2 separate regions of the Homo sapiens genome follow, and region 1 is linked to region 2. The links come from fine-mapping of genetic effects on gene expression. A gene starts in region 2. The other region holds a variant in brackets. All regions are shown on one strand. Distances are between the middles of the regions.

The links. PIP is the estimated chance that this variant, and not a neighbour inherited with it, causes the effect.
Region 1: its variant is the best candidate, but not a certain one, in a credible set for the expression of GLIS1 in cerebellar hemisphere (GTEx, PIP 0.82).

Annotation. Positions count from the first base shown.
Region 1 is chr1:53,531,527-53,540,129 of GRCh38, forward strand. The region is part of intron 4 of GLIS1 (GLIS family zinc finger 1); the gene reads right to left. Among named protein-coding and RNA genes, the nearest start is that of DMRTB1, 76 kb to the left of the region's middle. RefSeq lists an enhancer at 7,868-8,603. The variant T/C (reference allele first, on the strand shown) is at 4,621.
Region 2 is chr1:53,735,163-53,744,931 of GRCh38, forward strand. GLIS1 (GLIS family zinc finger 1) reads right to left here and starts at 4,002. Exons shown (of 11, transcript NM_001367484.1): 1 at 3,943-4,002; 2 at 2,644-2,944. The coding sequence starts at 2,902. RefSeq lists an enhancer at 3,418-4,136 and silencers at 3,822-3,991, 4,002-4,351.

The DNA of each region.
Region 1 (8,603 bases), 200 kb before region 2:
TTGAGTAATTTCTGGTGCGAGGCTGTTCACTGGGACAGACTGGCTCCAGTCTGCGGTGAGTGCCAAGCTGCAGAGAGAACTCAGACATGGGTCCTGCCCTCTAGGTGTAGAGAGCCCATGTGGGAGATGCACACACGCACACCACCATAAAGCGACGTGGTTGAGATGTCACAGAGGGAGACACAGGGGCTGTGGCCACACAGAGGAGATGCCTGAGGCAGCCTGTGGGCCGCGAGCTGCTTCCACGGGCTTGATGACTGTAGCGAGCTTAGACAGACATGTAGCAGTGTGGAGACACAGGCAGGCAATTCCCCCAACACTGATGCATTCACCTCATTCTGTCTCTGGCCCTGCCCGAGCCCTGAACTGCAACCAACAGATCCAAAGAAGATAGTGGGGTGACGCACACTGAAGGCCAAGGAAGGGCAGGCACCAAAGCATGAAAAAGGCACAGATTCCCTGTGAAGGCCCCTGAGTGGTTGATGTGGGGTTCATTACGCTGGGGGTGGGCTGGGCTCTACTGGGCAAGGAGTCTGCAGGGAGCTCAAAGGCCAGATAGCGGGGACTCAAATGCTGGGCCAGTGAGCCTGGACTCCACCTTGGGGAAAGTGGAGACACTTCTCCTAAAGAAGGGAAAGGACAGGCTCAGATATGTGCCCTAGGAAGACCTCTCTGGCTGCTGGTGACAAGTGGGGACCGGGGGAGGAGACAGGAAGATGGCAATTGTAGCAGTTCCAGAGGAGGGTCACCAACGCCCCATCCAGGGCAGAGGTGGCAGATGGAGCACAGGCCAGGGCAGAGCTGCTCAGACAGATATGAGAGACACAAGAGACACGAGAGACAATGATGGTTCCGGGACAGCTCCCTCTGCGCCTGTCCCCTGGAAGCCCAGTCACAACTTGGGGCCGTGCTCTGCTGGGGCGGGTCCAAGGCGAGCCACCCACAGCTGGGTTTTAGAAGCTGTTCTGCTTCCTACTTCCAGATGTTGTGCCTTTTTCATGCATCCAAACCAGGAGGAAATCCTGTTTGGGCAGTAAATAGGCTGCAAGCCACCTCCCTTGCTCGCCTGCAATGGCCTTGTGCCAAGTTCACCCCAACGTGAGATGGGGGAGCCCGGGCTGGAGAGTGGGGCTTCCTCTCAGCATCCTTTGTTCCCCTCTGGCCCATGCAGGGCAGGGAGGTATCTACAGCAGAGGACAATAACTCCTCCAGGCTTCGTCATTTTCCTGACTGTGGGAGAGTGCTGGAAGGTGGACCATGATCGATACATCATCTTCTCCCCGAGGTCTGTGTATTCCTGCCTTGGCCAACCCTCTGCTCAGCACAGTTGCTCTGTCTCTATTCGGACTGTCCCCCTCCTGGGACTCCTTCCCTTCCAACTCTCTGACCATCTAATTCATACGTTTTTCAAACACAGGATCTGCAGCTTGGTGTTCATGGTCTTCCAACATGGACCCAACTGCCTCTCCCATGCAGACGCTCCACGCGTGATCTGCAGGAGTGAGACTGTGTCTGAACAGTCCTGAATTCTGTTAGGAATTTCCATGCCCTCAGGCCTTTACTTCAGTTGTTCCCTAGGCCTGGAATGCCTTTCCTTTATTTGCTCTTTTAGCAAACATCTACTCCTGTTGCTTAAGCACTCTCTCTCAGAAGCCTGCCTCAAACTTCCCCACCCCATCCTCTGTGACACCCATGAGCTTGTGGGGTAGGTTTTCCCTGCACAGCCATGGCCTTCTCCCCATGCCTCCAGGCTGAGAGTTTGAGAGTTCCTTGAGAGCAGGGCTGGCATCTCAATCATGGGGCAAAGGGTGGGACAGAAGCATGATATGGGGGTTGCTGGGCATGCAGTCCACGCACCCCTGTGAGTACACCCCCTTACCCCAGTGTGCAGAAAGGTACCCCGATAAGTGCGTGTGCCCTGATGCCTGTGCTGTGCCCATGTATGTTGGCCCAGCCTTGTTCTGCTCCCCGCCCCCTGGAACTTTCCAGAGCTGAGCCACAGGCTGGGGTATAATGAGCAGCTGGCTGGGATGCCCTGATGAGAGTGGCCCGTCCCTCCAGGTGGAAACAGAGGTACCAGCAGACGAAGGGGCACTGCCCCATCAGGACTGGTCTGGGATGAGGATGCTGCAGGCACCCCTGGCAGAGCCAGAGTCATGCCCCATCAGGACCAGCATCCCAGACACGCCAGGGGCCTTGAGGGCCTATGGGATCTGCCTGCAGCTGGCTGCCAAGGTCCCTGTGGTCCTTCCTAGTCAACAACTGCACAGATGGGGACAACAGAGGCACAGAAAGAGGGATGAGAGCGACCATCAGTTCAGCACCTATTGTGTGCTTGGTTCTGCTGGGCCTGGTGCTGTCACAAATGTGGCACCTTATCTTCTTCACTGCCCAGTAGGCAAGTATTACTGTCTCCACTGACAGATGGGGAGCTGATGCTCAGGGTGCAGCCAGCACAGGGGTTACACACACGGACCCTGGTGTAGACCCAGCCCAGGGGGAGCTCTCTGGGTCCCGGGAGCAGCCTCCAATGAGTGCGAGGTAGCCTTTGGGGTGGGTGTGGCTTGAAGGGCCCCCATCCATAGGCTGTGTAGGGCTGGGAGGGCTGCAGGGAGGGAACCCCCACCATTGGGTTGTGGGGGCACAGATGCTGCAGAATGGATGCATGGGGCTTGTGAGACCAGAAATGCAGCCATCTAGCACGTCCCTGGCTTCGACCTTGGTTTCTCAGGTGGAGGGAGGACTTACCTTCAGGTAATGGCACCACGACCCGAGGGCATCGTAATGATTCCATGGGGCCTGCACCACAGGGAGTGCCACTGGGGCGGGGCCTTCCTGACATCCCGGTCGCCTCAGGCTCTATGGTACATTTGTCCTGGACAGACACCTGCTTCCTGCTGCCAGTGTCCAAGGGTACAGGCTGGCAGAGCAGACCCTGGACCCCCACTGCAAGGGCTGAGTGCCTCTATGTGGGGGGTTCAGAGAGGGAGATTGTTCCCCCTGTGCCAGGGGCACTGAGCCTGAGCTATGCCATAGGCAGAACTGCCATCTCTCCTGAGAAAGAAGTGCCTGCAACACAAGGTAAGCCCTGTGGCCTGAAAGCCAGCTGTGCACCCCATCCCTCCACCCCCACCTGACCACCCACCCCATCCCTGCTACTGTGCACCCCCCATCCTTCCACTCACGCACTTCTGCGAGTCACTCACTCATCCTCTCCTCTTTGAGCACACAGGTTCTTATCCTCCTGCCTCACTCAGCTGCCCCTCTGTGTGCCTGGCAGTGTGCTCTGAGCTGAGACCCAAGGGCGTCAAAGACCCATAGCTCCAAACACACTGGAACTTGTTCAGAGCCCTAGGAAGGGGCTGACCCGGGGGCTTCTGGCTGGCAGAGGCTGGGGAGCTACAAAAGCCTTCACAGAGGAGCTCAGCCCTGACACCCAGGCAGGGGCTAGAAACACAGAGCCAGGAAAAGCATTCCAGGGAGAGGGCAAAGCATGAACAAAAGCAGGGAGGCTGGAAGAGGTGGGATATGTTCTGGAAACAGCTAAGGATCTATTGAGCAGAGAAGGAAGGGAAGCAGGGAGAGGAGAGGTGAAAGTAGAAATGGGAGTTTTGGGGGCTCCCTTCATTCAAACACATGGGGTAGTGGTTCCTTCTGCAGCAGGCAAATTTGGGGATTTTTGATTCTAAAGACTTCACAGAAGCCACTCCATGCAAGGACTGATGTGGCACAGGCTCTTCACTTGAGGGACTCTGGTGCGACTTCTGCTGGCTGGACCACCCCAGGTCACGCAGGGCTGATGCCCTGGGTCTGAGCTGTCACTGTTTCTTCCATCTACCTTTACTAAGCACCTACCGTGAGTCCAGGCACTGGGCTGGACCGGTGCAGGAGGGTGCGACATGGGCCCCTAAGCCTCAAGCACATATGGCCCTGAGTTGCTGGCACATGGCCAGCCCACCTTGGGGCCTCTCAGTCCCTCATGGTGGATGGCTGGGTGGGTATGGGGCCCCTGACCTCCCACCTTCTACCTGGATGCTTGAGCCAGGAACATGTTCCCTCCTCTCTGGGCCCTGCATCCAACTAGTCACCAGCCCAGGAAATGCCACCTTGTAATCACCTTCCAGGTCTGCCCCCTTCTCTTCTTATCCACCCACTGCCCTAATCCACACCCCAGCATCACTTACCTGGGTGACTGCACAGGTGCCATCCTGCCTCCCTCCTGCCTTTCCCAACCCATTTCCACGAGCTATCTGAAAAGAAGACTTAAGCCCATAGCTCTGTGTCCCTCCCTGCTCAAACCCTGCATGGTTCCCCAGTGCCTCAACATGTACAGATCCTCACCCTGGCATTCTGGCCAGCATGATCTGGTCCCTTGGTGCTGGCTTGGTGGCATCTGTACCCTCCAACCCCCGTACCCACACCAATGCATTCCAGCTTCAGATCAGCCTGGGTGCAAAGCTGGCCTCCACGCTTCCCGACCCGATGAATCAGGGTGAGCTCATTTCACTTGTCAGAGACCAGATACCTCAGATGTAAGAAGGGGCACACTGTGGGGGCTCTGTGAACCACTGTGTGCAGAGGCATCAGCGCTCTGACGCCATCTGTCCATGCAGAGAATGA[T/C]ACAGGCACCTTCTGTCGAGGGTGGATTTGAGACACACTGGCTCAAATAACCAAAAACACAACAGACTGATCTGGCTAGAAGGAAGGGCTCCCACACCATGGGAACAGAGAAGGTGATACTGAGGGCAGGGGGTACCCAGGATGGGGAGAAGGAAAAGCAGGCATGTATAACAATCTTGAAAAATGTAAGAATAGGTGGTTAGGTTTTTCTTATTTACCCCAAAATACACAAACAGTAAAACATATTTGAAGATGAAGTTGGGGTGAATTCAGAATGACAGTAGTGACTGGGTGACACTTTCTCTGACACCTACCGTAGGCCAAGTGCTGTGTGTGTTTCATTTAATTCAGACAACGTTCCCCGCTGAGGAAGCTACTTCCCAGCCCACTCTGCAGAATAAGAAACTGAGGCTCAGAAGGGTGATGTCACTGGCTCCAGGTCACACAGCCAGTCAGTGACGGAGCAGGAATCTGACCTTGGGTCTGGCTGATGAGTCTATATGTGTCCCTAACCACTCTGGCCACTGCCTCAGGGACTCCTACCTAAAGCACCAAAAGACAAGTTCTCTCTCAGGAGCTAGTACTGTCATTTCAAACCAGGCGTCACAGGTTCCATTCCTGGGGCAAGGCCAGGCCTGGGCCCAGCCCCAGAGCTGACGCTGGGAAGGGAGGATGCCCACAGTGGATGCCTCCATGCAGAAAGGAAAACCAGGTGGCACAGTGGAGAAGAAAGTACCAGCTGATCCACAGAACAGCCTTGAAAGGCCCAATTCCCACATGTGGGGTGTGTTACAGCAGAAGATTAAAAAAACGGGGAAAATACCCCGGGAACCGTGAAGCCCCAGACCATCTGGAGTTTTATAGTGACAGGCAGGGGAAAATCAGAACCTAATTGAAAAATGTCCACTGCAATCCATTACTGCTGCGTGCCGCTCACAGAGCAGAGGGCAGGAGATGAAAGACAGAGGGGAGCCATCCCAGGAGCCAGGCAGGGGGTGGCATCCTCGCCTCTGGGCCAAGCCCAGGGACCCCTCAAGCTCTGGCTTGGGGAGGGGGAGGGCTGAAGCCCAAGATCCGCTGGGGGCTGGCTCAGACGTTCAAGTTGCAGGGTGGGTCCACCTTCCTCAGCAAGCCACACTCAGAGCCTTTTATGCATCTGTGGACGGGCTAAGAGCATGCAGGGGAGCCCCAGCACAGTGCCTGGCGTGCCGCTGGCACTAGGTGATGGCTCTTCTCTCCCTCTGGCTCCTGGGGAAGAACCAAGGGCCCTGTTTCACATGTGAGTTGGTGACACCATGCCGCAAACCAAAGTGCTGCAAATCAAGTCACGCAAACAGAGGTTTGTGCTGGGGATCCACCACCGGGAGCCTGAACCTGGGCTAGTCACGCCTCATTTCTGTCCTCGTTTTTCTCTTCTCTAAAATGGGGCCACCACAAACGGCTGGTAGAAGTAAATAAAAGAATATGCCCAGTGTAGGAACTGGCACATAGCTGGTGCCTAATGAATGTCAAGTTTCCTGCCTGCGGCTGGCATGGCCCAAAAAGGAGGCAGGGTTCAGTTTCTCATGCTCTAACTAAGAATCTGGACACAGAGTGAAGAGGAGGTTTGGGGGAACAGGGCATGGCACGGGGGCAGGGGAGGAAATGCCTTCAGTTTTAGCATTTGCCAGTGACTTGCTTCTAAATAAACACATTTCTGGTTTAAGGGTAAAATATATTGGGTTACAAAAGTCTGGCAGGCCATTCAGGGATCAACTTCTCATTTTTGTACGAACTTTTAAGTTACTTTACAACAATGATGTGGATGGGAGAAATGCAATGCCAGCTCCTTCTCCAACATGTCAAATAATCCTGCGTTTGGCCAGCTTTAAAGGCCAGCAAGCTGGGCACTGAGGGCCGCTCCTCGCTCCTGCACTCTGGGAGGGGCCGCTGGCTGGCCTGAGGTTACTGTCCTGTGCTCCCCCGTGGGGCTCCTTGAGGGTCTCCTCAGAGTTTGGGGCTTCGCCAGTCCTCTGTGGGGAGGTTGAGGCAAGAATGGAACGGACAGACGGGAGGAGGGTCCTGGGGGTGAGGCTGGAGGGCACTGACCCGGGCTCTTTGATTTGGACCGTGAGGCTCTCGAGGGTCTGGTGTTTGGGGATGCAGTGCCACCTGCATACATGAATGGAAAGTGGGGCATGTGCGGGGACTGAGCAGAACAGCAGCTATCACATTGACCATGTGCCTAGGACTGGGCCAAGCTCTCCCTAAACACCATCTCACTAATCCTGCAACCCCTATTGTTACAGAGGTGGAAACTGAGTTTAGGTGAAGTGCCAGAGTCCCAGCGCTCACTCATGGGATGGAGCCTGGGTTCACCTCCAGTGCCGAGGTCTGTGCCCTGGGCACACTCTGGTCCCAGGTAGCCATGATCGAGCACTGCCATGAGAGGCAAGACCATCTGCTCACTGGGCCTTCATAAGCAGCTGGCAGGCCAGGGAGGGCTGGGGGCACACAGTGAGGCAAGGGAGAACAGGACAGAGGGACCATACACCTCCTCTGGGAGCCCATGCGGGTGGGCCTGTCCTTGGGAGGAGGATCTCAAGGCTGAGGGGGTGGGGGCTGCAGACACCCTGACCCTTCCTCACCAGGAACACACTGACAGCTCTGGGCTGGGCTCTTCTCTGGCAAAAGTTCCTGTCTGGGCAAGAAATGGGTTCCTGTCCCCAGCAGTGCAGTTGAGGCATCTCCTGGAAAGGTGGCCGGCCAGCAAGGATCAAGAGAGTCACCCTTCCAGGGCATGTGGAACCCCCGAAAGTAGGAGGTGCAGGAGGGGCTGAGTCAGCTTCTCTTGGGCCCAAGTGGACAGGTGGGATCCAGGGGCTCTCCCAGTGCAGAGCTGTGGCTAGACATCGTCTGGAATGAGGAAAGAGGCTCTGCCAGGGGCCAGGGCTCCGCAGAGAGCACACAGCATAGAATGGCTGACACATGTACACCAAGCCACCAGCCACAGGCCCAGAAACGTGGACACTCACACACTCTGATGTGAACACCTCTCCCTCCAACCAAGCCACACGTCGGAGACAGCCCCAACACACACCAACACACACACATGGATTCACACACACACACACACCAAGACCCAGAAACTCCCTCACACACACACACACACACTACACCTAAACACACACACCCCAATTCACCCACACATACCATATCCCCACATATATACCACATAACACACCCACACATATCATACCACACACACACTCCACAGCACATGAATGCACACCCCACACACACACCATACCACACATCACAGCACACCCCCAATACATACACATCATACCTCCCACACACACGTACCACACCCCCAACATACACACACCACACCACACACACACATACCACACGGTATACACCCCCCCACACACACTACACATCATACACATAAACTGTGTTTACACCCCATGACTCATATCACAAAAACACACAGGCCAGGACACACATGTTCACACATATACCCAAAGACGTCCAAGCCCCAGACCTGCCACATTCACAAACACACTAACCCCCACCCACCAGCCACACCGACACACTGCCCCACGCATAGCACAGCACACGTGGAAACTGGCCACCTGGAACATGGATGTGCGTGTGGGGTTCACTGAGGGGCTGGGTCCACTGCGCCTCCTGACCTCTGAGTGGTGGCTGGCCTGGCCTGGCCTTGGGGACAGCATGCATAGCCTGAGAGATCTCCACTGACCTCTCTAGCCCAATGTCTACTTCCCTCCCCACGCTGCAGCCACAGGCCACACATTGCCGCCTCCACGCCTTTGCCCATGCGGTGTCCTCTGCTCAAGGTGCCCCTGTTCACTGGCCAGTCCTCCTTGTCACTCTAGGCTTGGCTCAAGCCTGAGGCCTTCCCAGTTCTCTCACTGTCATCCCGATGCTGCGGCCAGGACTGCCGGTCCCTTACCACTCTCCTACCATTCAAGCATCAC
Region 2 (9,769 bases):
CTGTGGCCACAAAAGACCTGAAGCTTGGCACCTCTCAGCCTCCCCTGGCTAGCACACCACAGTTAGCACCCTTCACATTCAGCATTTTAAAAATGTAACCTTGCTTCCTTCTCACTCTGTCCCCTTTATCTCAAGTGTCACTGACCCTTGCATGGGCCCTGCACGAATTAATAAAAGTGCCTCCTTCTACCTTTTTAGCTTATAAGGCATTCTTACAACTCTTGTTTTATTTACCCTGCAAGGTAGGCACCATTACCTCTCACGCAAATGAAAACCCAGAGGTTGAGAATGTGAAACAGGTTACAGTAGTAATCCTAAAAATAACCAGGCACTGAGGTGGCCCTTGCACATTCTTTATCACTAATGATCTCATCAGTCTTGCGAATTAAGTCTCAGGGTAAATTTACAAACGAAGGAACCAAAGGCTCAGAAGAGTAAAATCGATTCCCCCAAGTGCCACAGATCATAGATGGTGGGGTCTCACAATTCCCAGCACAGTCAATACATATTTTTCAATTGGTATTTCTGTCTGTTTCCAATAAGCCTGAGAACTTGGAGCTAGACACCAAATATTCAAAGGGTTACATGGTCTGGGACTATTTCGGTGGGAGTAGGGGCAGTAAGAAGGTGCCGTTTCCTCGCAGCATTTTTAAGGACGCTGAAGAACTGGGGGAAAGCTGGGTTTGTCTCGGGCCACTTGGTGACTGCACTGTGAGGAAAAGCTTGCCTATAGCAACACAGAGGCCAGCAGGGAAACCTCTCCAAGCCCAGGACCCTGAGCCTTCCCTTTCTCCCTAGGCCAGGTTAGGCCAGAGCTGTGGCTTCCCTAACCACTGCCCTACACATACCAAACACTTTCCCACCTTCAGGCCTCAGTTTCCTCACCCTTCAAATGAGTGGGATACATCCCACCACAACAGCCTCACTGGGAGGCTATGAAGAAAAGTTGTGAAACCTCTTGGAAAAAAGCTTCACCAGAGAGACCAGCTTAAGGTACAAAGAAAGAGGCTCTTCCTCCCATCCCTTTATTCTCCTCTGCCCTTTCCAAATGGAATCCTGACTTAAAGATCTTTTATTTTGGACATGTTTGGGGGCGTGCGTAAAAATAACTGGGGTTAGGGGGAATGGAAGTAGGAAGATCGTACACAAAGCCCCCAGGTGAAAGGTCTCACCATAGCGTGGAACAAAGATTATGTTCGGGAGAGCTGTTTGCTAGGTCTGCAGAGAACTCGATCTTCAGAGGACAGCCATGATTTTTTTAAACACAGAACGTTGCAGGAGGGTATCTATTTAAGGGAGGATTGTGTATGGAGCGGGGCAAGCCAGGGAGCTCCCGGCAGCAAACATTACTCATGTCTCGCTGCGCAGCGCTCCTCTCTGGTAAAAGAGACCTCATATGTGTGTATTCCAGCAATAACACTCAGCAGGCATTTCCCGCCCCTCCCCACTGTATCTGTCCTTCTAAAATATTATCTCTATCCCTTGAAAAAGAGGCTGGCATCTAAAACAAGGAGATGAGAAGTAGTTCTCTCTTACAAAGTCAAGTGTTTTCTTCAAAAAAGAAAAAAACTACTTATGTTTATTTCATTTTACTAATCCCTGAACCAGGGAGTTGGGTGTTTTTGATCCACAAGGAGCTCTCAACTCTAAAAGTAGGCTGCCTACCCCTTCCGAGTTGTGAGGCTGATGCTAGGAAGTGATGCCTATAACCGTAAAACCCAAACTGTTTTTGTCTTCCTTGAGAATCATCTGGAATGAGAACCAAGAGGTTCCAAATGCAGATATAGTCAAACCCCAAAGCCTTGGTTTCCCCTAAGGGAAAAAAAAAGGGGGGAGGACGAGGACACAGCATCTTAACAATTTCTCCAATTCCTGGTTAATTATCTGTCAGCACGAAACTCATAAATAATGACTCAATAATAATTAACTGTGATGAGAAGAGCATGTTCCTGAAAATCCCAGCACCATCTCCGACTTTGAGCCCATAAGCCATACTGGGACCCCCACCTTCCCGTGGCCAGCTTCACTGGGGGACGAAGGGACTTGCCAAGGAGCTTGTGACCCAAGACTAGGCTGCCGAAGCACCAAGTACAGAAAAGCCATGTTTAAGTTAGGACGTGACTAGGCTGGATTGCTGATGCAGAAAATTTTCCATCAGGAATCCAGAAATCATCTGGTTTAATTAATTCCTCACTTGACAGATGGGGAAACTGAGGTCCCAAAAGGAGAGGGGTCTTGCTAAAGGCCTCTGGGTTTTGTCAGCTGAGGAGATTGAAATACTTCAAACTATGCCTTGAGCTGCTCAGAAACAGATACCAATATATGCGTTGCTATTCGCCCTCATGTATAATAAAATTTTGACAAGTTTCTATGCAAGCTTTATCAGAAACACACAGAAGCAAAATTATGTAAGCTGAGAGCTTTCTATAAACACATTTCCCCAAACGGGGCTAATTGAATTTAAATTAGATGCTTCGCAAAGCAGGCATACTTTCACACTGACAAGCTAGTCCCAAACAATAAGAGAGAAACTGAGGAACTCCGAAGAAAGTTCCACCAAGCTCTCCCGAGCACGCGGTGGCGACGCCGGGCAGCCCGAATCTCCACAGGAGCCGCCAGGCACGTTGGCAGGGCCGAACTCACCCTTCCCGGCGGCGGCGGCCTTGGATGGACCGTAGTCTCGGGGACTGCGGGGCCGGAGGAGGTCGTGGGCGCGCGGTGGCGGCGCAGGCGGCCGGGCTAGCAGGTCCCGCGGGCCCCTGTCCCCGCAGCCGCCGCCACTCACGGTGACCCTGAAGGCCATGTGCGCGCCGAGGCTGGCGGGGCCGCGGTCGGGGCCGGGCGCACCAGGGGCCTCCTTAGGCCTCTTGTCCGAGTGTGCCTCAGCCACCTCGCAATGCATGGCGCCGGGGCGGGGCGCACGGCTGGGGGTCGCGCCGGGCTCCTGGGGAGGGGAGACAGCACAGCCAGTTAGAATGCGGAAAGCGGCCCCCGTATTGTCCCGGGGCCGAGTTTGAGCAGGTCACTGCCCCTTCGGTGGATTGCGCGTCTTTAACATAGGTTAGCACCACGACACCTAGCCCAATCAGAGGTCAAACCCACCTGATTCCACGCAAAAGCCCCCTCGCTCAGGAGCGGTTCGCCCTTCCCTGGTGTGGGGAGGACCCCAGGCCCCCGCGCCGCGGCGCATTACCGCGAAGTCCCACCCAAATCCTCCTCCACCGAAACCAGCCTCCTTTGCACGAATGGTGAAACTGAGGCCTGGAGCGGGTAAGGCGCCTGTTCCGCGTCCCCCAGTGGAACACGGAGCCGGCGGCAACGAGGATTCCCAGAGCAGGGCTCGGGCGAAGCCCCGGAGACGGCTCCGGGTAGGTCACGGGCTGCGCGCTTCGTCGACTCTCCGGGGCCGAGCTGCGCGCAGAAGCTGGGGACCCGAACCCAAAGGCCCGAGGGAAACCCCCAGAGACTCACCCGCGACCACCCGAACCTGGAAAACAGGAGTCCCAAGCTGGGCGCTGAATCCTGCGACGCGAACCCATCACGCGCAGCCGGGACACCCACATTCCTATGCGCAGCGGAGGAATCGAGCCCGTCGCGCGCGCAAACCGGCACAGTGGGCAATGCCCACGCGGCCGCCGCCACACACCCGCACACCCGCCGAGGCACGCCCGGGGACGGACACGCCACCCACACTGCCGCTGGTCAGACGCTCAGCAGCGCACAACCACACAGTCCCACGCTCTCGCCACACGCGCGTGCGATGGGGGCCGCGACAGAGCCTCCCTCAGCCCTTCCATCAGGGGCCCCCAAACTCTCCGTTCCCCTCCGCGCTCCCTGCGCCATCCCCAAGCTGCCGGGGTTCGAGCGTCGCCGGGACGCCAGCCTCGGATCTCGGGCCCCGCACACGCCCCTCCCTCGGCCGCGGGCCGCGCCCCCTCTCACCTCGCAGCGGCAGCTGCAGATCGCTGGGCGCCCGGCTCGGCGCGCCTCCACTGGCGCAGCAGCCCCCGCAGCCGCCGCAGCCGCCGCCGCCGCCGCCGCGTCCTGCGGGGCGGTTCCCCGGGGGACGGGGGCGGGCCCGCGTCTGCCCAACAGCCGCTCCAGCCACTGGCTGGCCGCGGCCGCCCGGCTCAGGCCAATCGCGGCGCGAGGGCGGGGCATCCCCCCCTGGGGGTCTGGGCGGGGCCCGACGCGGGGCTGAGCAGAGGGTTTGACAGGCGGCGGCCGGCTGGATCCCCGCGCTGCCCGCTGTTCTCAGACGGCCGAGCCGGGCAGGACGGCGGGGCGGCGCCGCGGCGAGAGAGGCTGGGCTCGGGGGTCGGCGGAGTGCGCTGGGCGTGAGGAGTGCCGGGCTGAACCCGGCTCCCTGCCCGCCTCTCCACTAGCCCCGGGCAGGATCCTCCCTTCTCCCGGTCGGTTTTCCCCTCCGTCAGATGGGAACGACGCTGTCTGCTAACGCGAAGCGGACAGATGCGAAAGTGCTTGAAAAGTTTTCTTGCAGAATCCAACCCTCTCACTGGAGAATTTGCAGAGATTTCACAGCTAGTGGGCAGCAAATTTGGGACCCAAACCCAGGCCTCTCAGCCCACTTTCTTACGTTTGTTTTTGTGTTTTCCGCCGGAAAGAGTCCAGGGTAAAAGGTCTCAAACTCTGAAGTTAAAGATAAAAAAATGGTGCCTGATCCCAACTAGGAAATATTCCAATTGAGTCTTGGGGAATAGGCCCCCAGCACTTAGGCTTTTAGCGAGCTCCCAGGAGATCCTTACAGATCTGGGGATTGAGACCCACTCTAGGGGTCTACTCTGTTGTCCTGCCTTCTGGGATTCCCCCACAGACAGCACGCAGTGTCTCAGGGGGCCCTGCCCAACGTGTAGGAAGAGCACGGGACAAAGAACAGTAAGGCTTCACAGAGCCTGCAGGCAATGGCTCAGTTCCCCGCTCTGAGCCTGAGTCCTCCCGTGTAAAATGGCAGTGTTTGCCTAGGCCTGGTCTACCTGCCATGCCTACCGAAGGATCCAGCCAAGCCCTGAAATGGTTTCTGCATTTCACCTAGGCGCCTCCTGTGCACTGTTTGATGGTGGTCTGGGCTGGCTCCAAGGGGCCTGACTGGTTTCGAACTCCTTTGAAGTCTGGTCTCTTTGACCTTGGTCTCAAACTGGAAAATGTATATGGAGCCCTTCTGGACTACACAACATGTCAAGTTCATAGCACAGGACTCTGCACAGAACAACCGACCCCAAGCAGCATCCTCAGAATCCTGGAAAACCAGGATTTTAGAATTTCAAAATCATAAAATTGGATTTCCTATAATTTGTTTAAAATAGTATCTAACAATTAGAGTAATAATAGTAAGAAAGACTTTGAGGTTTTAGTTAGACCCACCCTCCATTCAGAGGAGAAAGGACGTGACTGGCCTGTGTCAATGTGGTGGAGGGTGGCAGAGCCCCGGGATCCAGGCTTCCTGACTCCTGGCAATGCTGTTCCTTCAGTACCAACCACTCTGCTGCTCACAGGGAGAGGGTGTAAATCAACCATGCCCATAACACACAGGCCAAGGGTTGCGCCTCACTCAGTGCCTGCACCCCCCACCACCACATACTCTTGTGGAGTCACAGCTGGTTCTGCTGCCAACAAGCCATGTGGCTCTAGACGAATGGTAACCTCACTCTGGACCTCAGCTTCCCCCCTCCAAAGGCATGAAGTTGGAAGATCTCTGGCCTTTCTAGTTCTGCTCTTCTCTTCAGTAAGGCCAGGATCCAAGTCCTCTGCCCTCCCTCCACCCCCCACAATGCCCCCCCCCGCCGCCCCGCTGCAAAACACACACACACACAACAAGCACTGCGCTGCACATTTAGTCGGGACTCTGAAAACGTTTGCTGAATGAGTCATTTAACCAACTGGACCTGAAAGCAAAGGCCCTCCAAATTTCCAGATGAAGAAACAGCTCTTTCCATTATTCTTTTGAGCACTTACCCTGGGCCAGCCCCTATACCTGAGCTAGGGACACAGAAACACAGAACCCGCCCCCTCCCCTTCCCCTCAGTGAGCTCACAGGTCCACCTGACCAAAATAGGTGGGTTTGTGAAGGCTGGCAAAGTGATGAGAAGTTTAATCTGCTCAATAAAACAGACCTCTTAAACACTGTAAATGGCAGAACCCCTTTGGAGATACTCAGAATCTAGTAGGTATATGCTTTTTTTTTTTTCCACAAAGGAAACACAAGAAACTGTTAACAGTGGTTAAGGGAATGGAGGACTGAGGGAAGGCCTGCACTTTTCATTTTTATACTTGTCTGAACTGATTTGTGTTTTCTAAGTATATATTATCCTCCCTCTCTCTCTCTTTTTTTTTTTTTTTTGTTTTCTTTTTCTTTTTTGAGACAGAGTCTCACTCCTCTGTCTGCCCAGGCTGGAGTCCAGTGGCACAATCCCAGCTCACGGCAACCTCTGCCTCCCAGACTCAAGTGATTCTTCTGCCTTAGCCTCCAGAGCAGCTGGGACTACAGGCGCGCACCACCATGCCTGACTAATTTTCGTATTTTTAGTAGACAAGGTTTCACCATATTGGCCAGGCTGGTCTCGAACTCCTGACCTTGTGATCCGCCCACCTTGGCCTCCCAAAGTGCTGGGATTACAGGCATGAACCACTGTGCCCGGCCCCTCCCTGTCTTTCAATAGGGGTTATTTGAGCAGTGGGATTATGTGCTGCATTTTTTTCCTTTATATTTTTGGTATTAAAATAAAACTCCTTAATATTTTAATTGTCAAAAACAAAATAAAGTGAAACACAGTAACCTGCTTCTCACTTTAGCAGGCTAGACAGTAATGTCTGCTTTTTACACTAACCCGTGTTACAACTCACACTCTCTTCTGCCCTCCCACAGTCTGTCTACTGGATATCTCTATCAGGATCCATCTGCAAAATCGAACATCATTTTTTCATCTCTGACGTTGCTCCTCACTCCTATGTCCCTAACTGGGTGAATGGCCCTATGGCCAACTCCCCCAGTTCAGAAATCTGAGTCATCCTCAGCCCCTCCTCTCCCATACTCCTATATCTGACTTGTCATAAATTTAACTAACAATCCTCCTCCTCTCCATCCTCACTACTACATTTCTTCCAAGTTCTTTTTGCCTCCATCCTCATCCTTCTCCTAATTAGTGATTTTCCACACTGGTCTCCTTATCAGTCTCTAAAGTATAGATCTGGCCGGGCACAGTGGCTCCCACTTGTAATCACAGTACTTTGGGAGGCCAAGACAGGAGGATCACTTGAGGCCAGGAATTGGAGACCAGACTGGGCAGCATAGCAAGACCTTGTCTCTACAAAAAATAAAATAAAAAATAGTCAGGCATGGTGGCCTGCACCTATACTATCAGCTAATCAAGAAGCTGAGGTGGAGGATCCCTTGAGTCTAGGAGTTTGAGACTGCAGTGAGCTATGATCATACCACCATACTCCAGGCTAAGTGACAGAGAGAGACCCTGTCTCTAAATAAATAAGTAAATAAATAAATAAATAAAAATATAGATCTGACCATGGCACTTCCCTGTTTAAATCTCATAGCTCCCAATGGCCATCTAAATAAAATCAAACCATTTTCTTACCCTGCTCCCACCCCTACCCTATGTTCCAAGCACCTTGGAATAGTTTTCATCTCCTAGAATCCGGAACATATATTCATGCCTTCATAGCTCTGTATATGATTTCTCCTATGCTAATATTTTCTCCCCTTATTCACCTTGCCTACTTCTTCCTATGAATCATTTCATACCCAGCCCAAGTGTCACCTTCCCACAAGCCTTCCCTGAATCCTCGAGGGGGCTATAGCTATTTTCTCCCTGCACACTTTCACAATCCTCTGCTTTATTCTATCTGAGAACTTATTACAGTTTTGTAACTGCCTGTGTAACAGCCTGTCTCCCCCCTCTAGAATGAGACCTCTGTGAGGTCAGGGGCAGCTTTTTGCCTTTCTATCTTCAGAACCTAGAAGAGATTCCTGCACAAAGTAGGTAAATATTTACTGAATGCTGATTGAATTATTAAAGACTCACCACTAATTCATTTGCTTGCCTACATTTCTAGCTAAGAGCTTCCCCACCCTATCAAGACGTCTCTCCTCACTGTCTTTGTTCAGGGGTGTAAGCATTCACTCAGCAAATGGTTGAGGTAAAAGTAGACATTTCTGTGTCTAAGGTGTCCTGTGTCCAGGAGATAGGAGGAAGGAGAAGGAAGAGAGGTGATCGATGTTACACTGCTTACCCTGCCTCTGTGTCTTGCAGCAAGGGAAGAATTAACATGGGGAACCTACCATGTACCATGGCTGACACTCTCCATATGTGACCTCACTTAATCCTGACAACTCTGGATAAAGAGGTTATCATCCCTATTTTACAGGTGAGAAGATAAAAGTTCAAAATTAAGTGACCTCCCAAAGTTCCCACAGTCAAGAGCGTCTCTGCCTCCCATACATCTATGGCCAACTGATTTTCAATAAGAGTGCCAAGACCACTCACTGAGGAAAGAATTGTCTCTTCAACAAATGGTATTGGGACAACTGGATATCCACCTGCCAAAGAATGAAGTTGGATCCCATCTCACATCATATTCAAAAAGTAATTCACAATGGACCAATGACCTAAATGTAAGAGCTAAAACCATGAAATGCTTAGAAGAAAACACAGAGGTACACACCTTTTTAAAAAATAATTTTTAGGAGTAAATCTTCTTGATCTTGGATTTGGCAGTGGATTTTTTTTTTTTTTTTTTTTGACAGAGTCTCACTCTGCTACAACACAATGGTGCAATCTGGGCTCACTGCAGTCTCAACCTCCTGAGTTCAAGGGATCCTCCCACCTCAGCCTCTCAAGTAGGTGGGACCACACACTCTCAAGTAGGTGGGACAACAGGTGTGTGCAACCATGCTCAGCTAAGTTTTTAAATTTTTTGTAGAGACAAAGTCTCACTATATTGCCCAGGCTGGTCATATATCCTGGGCTCAAGTGATCTTCCCATCTTGGCCTCTCAAAGTGCTGGGATTACAGTCATGAGCCACCACACCAGTCTGGATCTTTGATACAATACCAAAAACATGAGCAATAAAATAAAAAATAAATTAGGCTTCATCAAAATTTAAAACTTTTGTACACCAAAGAACATTATCAAAATACTGAAGAGACAACCTACAGAACGGGAGAAAATATAGGCAAATCATATATCTGATAAGGGTCTAGCCTCCAGAATATACAAAGAACTCACACGACTCAAAAACAAAAACACAACCCAACGAAAAAATAGGCACAGGAGTTGAATAGACATTTCTTCAAAGAAGATATACAAGTGGCCAAGCACATGAAAAGATGCTCAACATTATTAGCCATTAGGAAAATGCAAATCATAACCAGAATGAGCTACTAGAGAAGCTGAGGTAGGAAGATTGCTTGAGGCCAGGAGTTCGAGACTGCAGTGCTGATGATCACGTCTGTGAATAGCCACTGCACTCTAGCCTGGGCAACATAGTGAGACCCTATCTCCAAAAATTTTTTTAAATTTTTTAAATAAATAAAAACAAAACACAATAAAATATCACTTCACATCCAATAGGATGATATAACTGAATAAAAGGAATGTCTCAAGTTGAATGATGAGGAATCATAAAAAAAAATGAGTGTTGGTGAGGATGTGGAGAAATAGGAACCCTCAAACATTGCTGGTGGAAATGTAAAATGGTTCAGCCACTTTGTATTTTTTAGTAGAGATGGGGTTTCAC